Homo sapiens: one gene and its partners. The protein of the gene in region 1 purifies or fractionates together with the protein of each later gene. This does not show direct contact. Each region holds a gene or a part of one and is shown on either strand. Other genes may lie near its edges.

Region 1 (4,389 bases):
AGCCACTGTGCCTGGCCCTCTAGATATAATTAAATGTCTAAAACTTAAGGACAAAACCATCATTCACCCAAACATATGACGTATCAAGTGAGCTGAGATGACAGTCCTATTACTGCTCACTTACCTCTATATATGGCAACTAGTAGAACTGGGTATTTATATCAGAAGCCTTAGAATTATCCTTGTAGAATATTGAATTTTACAAAATTATCTGCAATCCACTTATGCCTCCTTTTATTTCTCCTTCCAGGAACCTTGACACTCTCCTTGGTCGTCTCAGGAAATCTTACTTTTTTTTTTGTTTTGTTTCTTTTTTGAGATGGAGTCTCGCTCTGTCGCCCAGTGGCTGTGATCTCAGCTCACTGCAACCTCTGCCTCCTGGGTTCAAGCAATTCTCCTGCCTCAGCCTCCCAAGTAGCTAGGATTACTGTATGCACCACCACACCCGACTGATTTTTGTAGTTTTAGTAGAGACGGGGGTTTCACCATGTTGGCCAGGCTAGTCTCGAACTACTGACCTCAGGTGATCCGCCTGCCTCGGCCTCCCAAAGTGCTGGGATTACGGGTGTGAGCCACTGCACTTGGCCAGGAAATCTTTTCAACATAAATTATTTCTCAAGGAAAATTTACTTTGAGGTTTAAGACACATATATAGTTCTGCCATATTTATTAAATGGCTCTTGAAGTATTTGATCTGTGGTTGAAGGCAGAAGATATCCACAATGGTTTGAGGAGCTCTGTCTTCAGAAATCTTTTTGTAAATCTAAAATAGAATAGATAATATATGGAAGAACAGCAAAGGAAACAAAACAAAGCCCATTTACTTTTACATTCTTTTTTGCCTAATGCTTCTATTTAACACACATCATGCACAAAGATTTGCTTACACATTTGCTGAAGTCCACATCATAGGCTGAGCTAGTATGGAACAGTGAGGATACAAAGGACTTAATACGGCCAGTTGCAATGGCAGCTTCAACCAGGCTTTCCAAGCTCAGAGTTGTTGTTCATCCAATAATCACACATATGAGTGTCTACTGAGTAGAGCATTATCTTAGGCACTACTGCTTAAACTATCACATATTTAAATAAAAAATGAAGTGGCAAGATAATTTGTATTGCTATAACATTGTCACAGTTTTCTAGAGTAGCCTTCATCTCTTGAATAATATTCAATCTGCTGATTTTTTTCATATTGGCTTATACATATGCTCATATGTCTCCCATTTAGAGTACCCTTCATTTGACACTGCTATCCTCTTTGTGTTTCTTTCCAGTTATTATATGCAGCAGGATTTTATTAGTTTCCTACTGTACCTGACACTTGATAATCTTGCACTTTTCTTTCCCCTGGCTTCTATAACATTTTCCCTTCCATCTTTCATCTCTTCACTTCTAAATCATTAGCAAGTCTCAAGGATGGTTCCAGTATTTGCACCTTTCGGAGATCTCCAGTGCTACTGTTCTAGTGGCAATAGCGCAGTTGGCCTCTTGGGCTCTATTCTAGTCCCTGTCTTGCCCAGATTTATCTTTCTAGATAAAAACTACAAATCATGGCATTCCCTTCCTCAGAACTTTTAAAAGCTTCCTATTAAGCCCAAAACCAAGCCCAAACACATAAGCTTGGAATTCAAGGCCATTCAGTTTGCTTCTTTGGATTTATAGCCCATCACTTCTGGACACACCATATACTAGATTAGCTGTACTACTTGATGGCTTCCAGAGTAACTGGATGCTTTCCTGTCTGTCTTTGCTCTTGATGTTCCTTCAAGAATGAACAACCCTTGGCCTTTTTCCACCTCCATACCCTTTATCTTATCATATTTCTGCTTGTGGAAATCCTTCTCATACCTTATGGTATAGTATATTGGCATTAGGGATTAGAAATTTTTTTTTTTTTTGAGATAGTGTCTTGCTCTGTTGCCCAGGCTGGAGTGCAATGGTGCGATCTTGGCTCACTGCAACCTCCACCTCCCAGCTTCAAGTGATTCTCCTGCCTCAGCCTCCCAAGTAGCTGGGATTACAGGCGCACAATACCACGCCCGGCTAATTTTTGTATTTTTAGTAGAGACGGGGTTTCACCGTGTTGGCCAGGCTGGTCTTGAACTCCTGACCTCAGGTGATCCACCTGCTTTGGCCTCCCAAAGTGCTAGGATTACAGGTGTGAGCCACCGTGTCCGGCCTAGGGTTTTTTTTTTTTTTTGAGACGGAGTTTTGCTCTTGTTGCCCAGGCTGGAGTGCGATGGCACAATTTCAGCTCACTGCAACCTCTGCCTCCTGGGTTCAAGTGATTCTCCTGCCTCAGCCTCCCTAGTAGCTGGGATTACAGGCTCCCACCACCACACCCAGCTAATTTTTTGTATTTTTAGTAGAGATGGGGTTTTACTATGTTGGCTAGGCTTGTTTTGAACTCCTGACCTCAGGCGATCCACCTGCCTCAGCATCCCAAAGTGCTGGGATTACAGGTGTGAGCCACTGCACCCGGCTAGGGATTAGAATTCTTACAGCAGCTACACTGAAAGGAGTTCAGATACCACCATTTTCATATGAAATCTCAGAGTCCATCAGATAAAATCTCTTTCTTAGCATTTTGTACTTTTTTTTTTGTATTAAGTTAGTACTTCTTTTTTTTTTTTGAGATGGAGTCTTGCTCTGTTGCCCAGGCTGGAGTGCGATGGTGTGATCTCAGCTCACTGCAACCTCTGCCTCCCCGGTTCAAGCGATTCTCATGTCTCGGCCTCCTGAGTAGCTGGGATTACAGGTGCCTGCCACCACGCCCAGCTAATTTTTTGTATTTTTAGTAGAAACAGGGTTTCACCATGTTGGCCAGGCTGGTCTCGAACTCCTGACCTCAAGTGATCCAACTGCCTTGGTCTCCCAAAGTGCTGGGATTACAGGCGTGAGCCACCGTGCCTGGCCAAGTTAGTACTTCTTAAGGGCAAGGAGGCATGATGTTAATTCATCTTTGTCTCCCTTATAGACCTGATACTTAGAATGTGTTTAATAACTATGTGTTAAATTGAATTAAGGAACCTCAATTTCCAAAACATTAAGGATAGTAAGATAAATCTGTAAATTTTGGGAGGAGGGCAAAGAAAGACTAGAACTCAAAAATTGCTCATTTCTACTAATAATAAGATCTAACTAGATAGAAGGGAAAGGCATAGCGTCTTACCACTCTTCTTAAGAAGTTCTCCTTTTCGGGATTTATCCAGATTTTCAAGAAAATGTTCAAAAACTTTCACATAAGGTGCTAGACTGGTCTTCTTATAATCTAAATTATGAAGAATGTACATTATAATTAGCATACTGGCAGCAAGAATAACATGAAAACACAACTAAGTTTCTTATAAGAATTCTCTAGGGCTGCCCAATTGAAATATGAGAGAAACATACATACTTTTAAATACTATATTAGTCACATTAAAAAAGGTGAAATTATTACTGAGACAGGATTTCACTCTGTCATGCAGACTGAAGTACAGTGGTTCCGTCTTGGCTCACTGCAGCCTCGATCTACTGGGCTCAAGGGATCTTCCCATCTCTGCTTCCTGAGTAGCTATAACTACAGGCATGTACCACCATGCCCAACCAATTTTTTTTTTTTTTTTGGTATTTGTAGAGACGAGGTCTCACTCTGTTGCTCAGGCTAGTCTTGAACTCCTGAGCTCGAGTGATCTCCCAGCCTCGGCCTCTGAAAGTGCTGGGATTACAGACACATGCCACCATGCCCAGCTAAAATATTATTTTTGCATGTAATAAAAATTGAGATATATGATACTCTCTTTCATACAAGTCTTTTATATTTATATATATATATATAATATATATACATATATTTTCTTTTTTTTTTTTTTTGAGACAGAGTGTCACTCTGTTGCCCAGGCTGGAGTGCAATGGTGCGATCTCGGCTTACTGCAACTTCCGCCTCCCAGGTTCAAGCAATTCTCCTACCTCAGCCTCCCGACTAGCTGGGATTATAGGTGCCCGCCACCACAATGAGCTAATTTTTTGTATTTTTAGTAGAGATAGGGTTTCACCATGTTGGCCAGGCTGGTCTCAAACTCCTGACCTCATGATTCACCCACTTTGGCCTCCCAAAGTGCTGGGATTACAGGCGTGAGCCACCGCGCCCGGTCCATGCCTTTATTTTTGAGTCTTGCTCTGTTGCCAGGCTGGTATGCAGTGGTGCAATCTTGGCTCGGGAACCTCCGCCTCCCGAGTTCAAGCGATTCTCCTGCCTCAGCCTCCTGAGTAGCTGGGACTATAGGTGTGTGCCACCATGCCCGGCTAAGTTTTTGTATTTTTAGTAGAGACGGGGTTTCACCATGCTGTCCAAGATGGTTTTGATCTCTTGACCTCGTGATCCACCTGCCTCAGTCTCCCAAA
Region 2 (3,165 bases), on another chromosome or scaffold:
ATCCATTTCCCTGCAAGGAGGGCGTGTGTTGCCCTAGAGTGCCCAGGATCCATTTCCTGTTCCCCCAGTAATGGAGTGCCCGCCCCAGCTCTCAGAGCTGGAGGATACTGGAGGGCTAACCCATTTCTGGGTTTAGGGGGAGCTTAAGACTCAGGCAGGCAGGTTCCTTTCGCTTTTTTAATGGAACGCTGTGGCTGCAACGAGCATTTTCCAGTTGGCCACAGCGCACCCCCACTTTGTCTTATTCCAGTTCCACCCATTTATTTTATCCGAATAGGTCCTGGAGGCACCGAGTTTGCAGCTCCTGGTACCCTCTCCTCACTTCTGCTCTGTCAGGCCCCAATGCCTGCCCAGATCCCAGATCCCAGTTCCCAGATCACCCCGGGGCTCAACTTTCCTCCCTTGATGCCCAGTGGAACCCCTGGTCCCATGGGGCTTCAGTTTCCCCAGTTCAGGCATAAGAAGCTGGGGTTCATCTGAGCGTGTCCATGTTCCCCCTGGAGGAAGGACGGGAGCAGGCAGGGTGGAGCTGGGATTAGAGGGGACAGGGCAGCTGCAGGTGGCACCTCTGGGCTGTGTCCTCTTGTAGCAGGACGAGCCACAGACAAAACTCCTCAGGCACCGGATTAAAGAAGGAAGAGGTTTATTTGGCCAGGAGCATTGGCAGACTTGCATCTTAATAGCTGAGATCCCTGAAAAAGAAATTCTTGGCCTTTTTAAAGGCTTACAACTCTAAGGGGTCCACGTGAAAGGGTCATGATATCTCAAGCAAGCGGGGAACGTGACTGGGGGCTACACGCATCAGCTAACAGAGCAGAAAGTTTTGCAATGCTTTTTCATACAATGTCTGGAATTTACAGATAACACAAGTAGTTTAGGTCAGGGGTTGATATTATTATTATTGTTACTTTTTTTTAACTACCAGGGCCGGGTGGTGTCGCCAAGGTCTTCTGGCTATTTATCTTACTTCTGTTTTGTTTTGTTTTCTAACTTTTTGCTTTCTCTCTTTCCTCCTGTCTTGTAAACTAGGCAAGGTGGGGGGAGGAGGGCAGCAGGAGTAGTAGTGGTCTCCTTCTTACTGTGGGACTGGCCCCTTTGGTTTAGGGTATCACCAAAGGCAGTGTCTAGGCCAGCCCAGTGTCTCTGCCCAGCAAACCTCCATCTGCTGTGCACTCACAGCCAGGCCATGCTGGTGTTTGGTACAGGTTGGGTGCATGAAGGATGAAGGTTTTGGCCTGTCTGGGGCTTTTGCCTGCCTTTCTTCCTTTCTTTCCATCCTTCCTTTCCCTCCCTCCCTCCCTCCCTCTCTCTTTCTCTCTTTCTTTCCTTTGTTTCTTCTTTGGAGACAGAGTCTCGCTCTATCACCCAGGCTGGAGTGCAGTGGCACCATCAGCTCACTGCAACCTCCACTTCCTGGGTTCAAGCGATTCTCCTGCCTCAGCCTCCTAAGTAGCTGGGATTACAGGCGCGTGCCACCACACCCAGCTAATTCTTCTATTTTTGGTAGAGATGGGGTTTCACCATGTTGGCCAGGCTGGTCTCAAACTCCTGAACTCAAGTGATCTTCCCGCCTCAGCCTCCCAAAGTGCTGGGATTACAGGTGTGAGCCATCGTGCCCGGCTGTCCCAGGTAACTTCTGACATTTGCTGACCCCTCACTATGTGCTCATTATCACCGCAGAACCCCATGTGGTTGATCCTTTATTAGACCCATTTTACAGATTAGGAAACTGAGATGAGCAGAGGTGAAGTCAGCCCTGACAGGTCACAGGAGCAGCAGGTGGCAGAGCCAGAGTTGGGCTCAAGCTAGTGCCAAATGTGCCCCATTGGCCACTGACCCTAAAGATGTGTGACCCAGAGGGTCCTGAGGAGCCACGTTAACCCATGGCCGGTGTCATCCTCTTCCGGTTTAGGACTAGTGGATTTTGGGCACTGGAGCCACCTCTTTGGCAAACAGCTTGAGGGAGAAATCAAGGGCTGGGGCCGCCTGGGTCAGCATCCCCATGGAGATGACGTCTATGTGCGGCCCGCAGAACTGGGGGAGGTTGTCCAGGGTGATGCCCCCACTGGCTTCCACAGCCACACTCGGGAACTGGGCCTTCAGCACGGTGGCCGTGGGGTGCAGCTCCTGCGGGACACAAGCCAAGGGGAGGTAAGAGCCCACCACAGATCCCTCCCCGGAGGCAGAGCCCACCTTACCTCTGGCTTGAAGTTGTCCAGCAGGACAAGGTCGGCACCAGCCTCAGCTGCCTGCACGGCCTCCTGCAGGCTGCTGCATTCCACTTCCACCTTCAGAGTGAAGTCAGCCGCCTGTCTGGCCGCCCGCACCGCCTGCTGGGCAGCCGGGAGGACAAGGGTGAGGACTGGGCCCAGCACCTGGCACTGGGGCGCAGGGAGCCGGGAGGGCGAGGGTGACGATAGGGCCCAGCACTGCAGCTGGGGCGCGGGGAGCCGGGACTGACATTTGAAAAGCTTCGGGTGGACCATGAACTTGGGGTTAATAAGGAAACCAGACTTTGGGGTTGTTTTTGCTTTGTTTTGTTTTTGAGACAGGGTCTCAACCTGTCGCCCAGGCTGGAGTGCAGTGGTGCAATGATAGCTCACTGCAGCCTCTACCTCCTGGGATCAAGTGATTCTCCCACCTCAGTCTCCCGAGTAGCTGGGACTACAGGTGCGTGCCACCATGCCCAGCTAATTTTTGTATTTTTAATAGAGACGACGTTTCACCATGGTGGCCAGGATGGTCTCTAACTCATGACCTCGTGATCCACCCATCTCAGCCTCCCAAAGTGCTGGGATTACAGGCGTGAGCCACCGCACCTGGCCACTGTTTTGTTTTTGAGTCAGGGTCCCGCTCTGTCGCCCAGGCTGGAGTTCAGTGCAGTCATAGTTCACTGCAGCCTCCACCTCCTGGGATCAAGTGATCCTCCCACCTCAGCCTCCCAAGTGGCTGGGACTACAGGGGCTTGCCCACAAGCATGGCTAATTTTTTAATTTTTTGTAGAGACAGAATCTTGCTATATGGCCCAGGCTGGTCTCAGACTCCTGGACTTAAGTAATCCCCCCAACTGGGCCTCCCAAAGTGCTGGGATTACAGGTATGAGCCACTGAGCCAGGATGTTTTATTGTAGGTTAAAATGACCACTTTTGTGGGTCAAAAAGTGGA
Region 3 (4,411 bases), on another chromosome or scaffold:
AATGAATGGTTGTTGAACAAGAAAAAAAAAAAAAACAATGCAGAAGTGGATGCAGTTTTCAAGTACATGAAAGCACAGGACACCTGTTTGTGGCTTCGCCCACCGCAGGCAGGAAGAATCAGGTCATTTGAAGGGGAAATGGAAACCAGAGAATGGGCATTCTAGTCGTTTCTTCCCTCCTTGGGGGTTTACTTCATCACGGATGACTAGAGCAGCCTTCAGAGTCTCCCAAATTCCTGGACAAGAAACCCAGTCAGGTGCTTGCAGAAAGCCCCAAAGGGATTTTGCTTGGCACCAGGGACAGCGAGGCTGAGTACTGCTGTGACAGGGCCACACACGTGTCTCTGCTGGACCCACAGACAAAGAGCTCTGCACTGCTCAGGACTTGCCAGCAGACTCCAGGGAAGCCATGGTGGGGAACCCCACTAAGATCTGACTTCATCCCAGAGAAGACAGCTAAGCTTTGGGGACAGCCCTGGGCAGAGTGAATGTGGCCCAGGTTCGCTTTGACCCCCCCCCTCACCCTTGGCTCCTCCTTTAGCTGAACTGCTCACTGGATAGAGCACAGGCAGGCTACTTAAAAAATGCTGCCTGTGAGTAATGCCGGCAGTTTATAGCAGCTTTTGGAGAGGCCAGAAAACAGCCATGCCTGAGTGGCTGGTTCCCTTTCTGTTGGAGAGCTAGGTAGTAGGTCTAGAACGTTGTTCTGGGGACAATCCTTGTGCTTTGTGGAATGTATAGGCAAATTTTCTATCCTTTCTTTTTCTTTTTTATTTCTTTTTTTTTTGAGATGGGGTCTTGCTATGTTGCCCCAGTTGGTCTTGAACTCCTGGGCTCAAGTAATCCCCTTACCTCAGCCTCCTGAGCCAGCAATTTCTCTATGTGTTGTTTCCTGTCTTTCAATGGTGGCCCTGCTGCTGCTCTTCCAAGAAGCACATACGCTGTGCCCCAGGCCTCCCACTGAAGGCCTTATGCCTCTAGGCAGAATGGTGCCATCTCAGGTGGGGTCCATAGATAGTTTAAAATACCAGCCAAGCTGACCAAACTCTTTATGCCAGAGTCCAACCATGGGCCTCTAACTCCCACATCATTTGCTCTGCCCTGTTCGTTCCTCAGATTCCAGGAAGCCTGAGCGCCTCATTCAGCCAGATGATGCAATTTACACCTGGCTTTGAGGAAAAGCAGGGATGTGGAAAGACAAGAGCAGCTTTCAGAATTAGCTTTTGTTAGTGGAAAGACCCTGGATTTAAAGCCAGAGGACAAGAGTTTTGGAGATAGCAGTGCTGCTGCCACTTAGTGCCTGGAATTCTGTTACCCTTACTCTCATCTATAAAACAGAAGAAATAAGCTCTGCCCCACAGGACTGGTGTCAAGATGAACTCATGTAAACGTATATAGCTCGGCACCTTGGTTTCATAAATATTAGCCTTTTCCTCACATGGAAAAGTGCTTTGAGAACCAGAAAGCCCGATAAACCATATGGCTTTTGATGAAAACGAGGCACATTTTGGAGTCAGATATAGGAGAGAATCTCCCTTTATGAGCTGTGCACCTGAGGCAAATTGCACAGCCTCTCTGGGCTTCAATTTTTCACCTGTAGAATGAGGATGATAATCTCAGCTTATTAAAAGGATTGAAACAGAGTAAAATACTTGGCGTGTTCCTGTTGATCTTCTTCTGGTGTTTGAAAAGGCTCCTGGAACAGGTTTTGGGCTGGTGTTGCTCACCCTGATGTTCAGGGTAGGCCCTAGAACTTTGGGGGCCGGACCTGAGGCCCTCCACAGCCCCTGGGGTTGGAGAGCCCTGTTTGAGGGAAGGCACAGATAAAACCAGGGGGCCAACAGCTCTGCAGGGAGAAGCACTGACTTGAAGAGAAGGGGAGCAATGACAAGGCCGGCCTTCTCTGTTCCCTATCCTCTGTCCTCACAGGCTTGACCCCTGGCCTTTCTGAACCATTTGAAAGCTCTTTAAAAGGAGATAGGGAGGTACGCAGGAAGTGACTTGGGCAGCGAGGGGGGCAGAAATCACAAGGCCGTGTTTCCAGTTTGGCCACACTTAAAAGAGAAAGCAAGATTAGGCTGGGGATCTAAGGCTGAGGGGGGCACCGCCCCCCATCCTGGCCCTCCCTGCTCCCATTTGAAGGAAGAGTCCTACCAGGTGAAAAATGTCCTCCACACCCCACCCACTCCTGGCCACTGTTGCCTCTCAAACCACTGCTGGGAGATCTGGGGCACCCCCAGGTAGCCCTGGTCTAGTGCCAGAAGTGAAGGTGTTTATGGCTGGGCTCCCAACGCACAGGGCAGCCTGCAGCCACGGAGATCTCCAATTTCCTAAACTTGGACCTGCCCTAAGCTTTTCCTTATCCCCCCTGGCTCCCAGTCTAGCAGGTTCCCTGTGAAAGCCTGCTGCCCAGGTGATGGACACCTGAGGGTGTCATCCTGCCCTCCAGAACCCGCGAGCTGGGGGAGAAATGGAGGAGGAAAAGAAGACAACTTACTTGTTGAGATCGGAGCTTCCGAGTCCCACTGATGCTAACTTCTGGGGTGTCCCTTAGCGGCGGTGCAGGGGGGCTCAGGGCTTTTGAGGGGACTCCCCAGCCCCTGCCATGACCCCACGGAGGAGCTGTAGCTGGAACCTCTCCCTGTTGTGGGGTCCTGTGGGCAGAGGTACCTAAGCCATCCTGTCCCTTCACTCGCGGCCCCTTGGGTCACTCCCTTTCTCTAGCGAGAGCAGCTGGAACAATCTCTCTCTCTCTCTCTCTCTCTCTCTCTCTCTCTGTGTGTGTGTGTGTGTGTGTGTGTGTGTGTGTGTGTGTGTGTGTCCCCTCCTCCCTCTCCTCTCTCCCTCCGTCCCTGGTACAAATGAATCTCTGGGTAGTAACGCGACTGGAAGGGCCACCGGCGTTGGCGGCGGGGGGCGGGCTGGGGTGGGGCGGGGGCTCCATGTGATCCGGGACGCCGTCAGCTCGGCAGGACTGGGAGGGAAGAGGAAGGCGGAGAGAGAGCCCGGCAGGCATCCAGCCCTCCGCTCGCGTCCCCGCGGCCCCCTGCGCCCTCCCCCGGCTCCCCCTGCCCCCGGCTGCACCCCTGCTGCGGGGTGCCAGGGACGGAGACCCGCGCGCGCGCGTGTGAGCGTCCCATGCCTGTGTGTGAGCGCCGCGTGTCACGCGTGTCCGTGTGTGAGCGCCGCGTATTTAGTGGGTGCGGTGGAGCAGACAGAAAGAAGGGAGAAACTATTAGGGCAGAAATCTTGGCTCGGAGCCTCGGCGGGGCTGCTCAGTCGCTCCGCGGTGCGCTAAGCGGACGGTTGGCAGCATTTCGCCGTTTCCCGAGAGGGATGGAGCAGATGGGGGGATTCCTTTGGGAAGGCGGGGGAGCCACAGTCTGGGCGCTGCATCCCCCGCCCGACGGCTCTGATTCCCGCCGTGGAGTGAGGGTCCGGGGGCCTGATCCGCCAGCTGCAGGGGGAGTAGGTCCAGGGACAGGACCCAGGCTAGCTGTCCCCGGGCTCGCTGCTCACCCCGGACGATCTCTCCCCGGCGTGCGGCGGCGGCTGGGCGGCGATGGCTGGAAACGCGCCCTGCACGGACAGGAGGCGGGAGCAGCCCGGAGGGAACGGAGCTCAACCTTGCCCAGGCGTGGGCAGAGCCGGCGTCCTCCGCGCCACCTCCCGGCTCTCCCTTTTGGATTCCTACCTGCCTTGAGGACAGATGATGACCAGAGTGTGTTCTTTAATTCGTGGAAGCCGTAGGAAAGGCAGCTGCCAGGGCAGGCTGAAAGGGAGGGCTGCTGTCTGGGGAGGGCCGGCAGGTGCCTCTGAGGACCGGTCTGTTCGGGGTGGCCCTTCTCACCCGGTGGTGTTCCTTCTGGCCCCTCTCCGTTACCCAGCCTTTTGGGGTCAACACCCCCCCTGCCAGCCCCCTCTCTCAGGGCAGACACAGCTGGTCAAACGTGGGGTGCCCTAGCACCTAGCACAAGTGCTAGGTGAATGATGTCTACGACCAGAAAACTGGTTTATTACGTTGCAATGAGAAAAATGCTTGTCACTAATACTGGAGGGCACCAAGTCCATCCTCTCCTGTAAGGACAGTGACAGGGAAACTTAGTCTCTAACAGTGGCCTGGGGGTCCTCTTGCCTCGGAGACCAGCGTACACACAGCCCGTTGCCCAGGCACCCTCCCCTGGGACAGAGCACAGAGCGGTCCGGCCAGAGTGGGCCTCCTGATTGCCCCTCTTCTCTCTGTAGAGGGGGTGATTGTTAAATGTGGCTGCAACAGGCCCTAACAGGAAAGCTCTGTGTCCCCTTAGGGGACTCAGCTTGCCTAGGTGCTCACGCACTGCACCATATGTTGTTTGACCTCAGGGCTTAACACTATTGTGGAGAAAGTTCTTAATTCCCTAATTGCCTAGTT

What was found.
Region 2: the proteins of PRIM1 (region 1) and QPRT purify together in Homo sapiens (co-immunoprecipitation; one large-scale study listed by IntAct). This does not show direct contact.
Region 3: the proteins of PRIM1 (region 1) and KCNJ5 purify together in Homo sapiens (affinity purification with mass spectrometry; one large-scale study listed by BioGRID and IntAct). This does not show direct contact.

What each region holds. Positions count from the first base shown.
Region 1 is NC_000012.12:56,730,972-56,735,360, forward strand, and holds the end of PRIM1 (DNA primase small subunit), read right to left. Parts: intron 3,275-4,389; coding exon 3,176-3,274; intron 764-3,175; coding exon 744-763; 3' UTR 609-743; downstream 1-608. UniProt on the Homo sapiens protein: Catalytic subunit of the DNA primase complex and component of the DNA polymerase alpha complex (also known as the alpha DNA polymerase-primase complex - primosome/replisome) which play an essential role in the initiation of DNA synthesis.
Region 2 is NC_000016.10:29,696,161-29,699,325, reverse strand, and holds the end of QPRT (nicotinate-nucleotide pyrophosphorylase [carboxylating]), read right to left. Parts: intron 2,334-3,165; coding exon of another isoform or gene 2,331-2,333; coding exon 2,199-2,330; intron 2,128-2,198; coding exon 1,915-2,127; 3' UTR 627-1,914; downstream 1-626. UniProt on the Homo sapiens protein: Involved in the catabolism of quinolinic acid (QA).
Region 3 is NC_000011.10:128,889,808-128,894,218, reverse strand, and holds the start of KCNJ5 (G protein-activated inward rectifier potassium channel 4), read right to left. Parts: upstream 2,864-4,411; 5' UTR 2,498-2,863; intron 1-2,497. UniProt on the Homo sapiens protein: Inward rectifier potassium channels are characterized by a greater tendency to allow potassium to flow into the cell rather than out of it.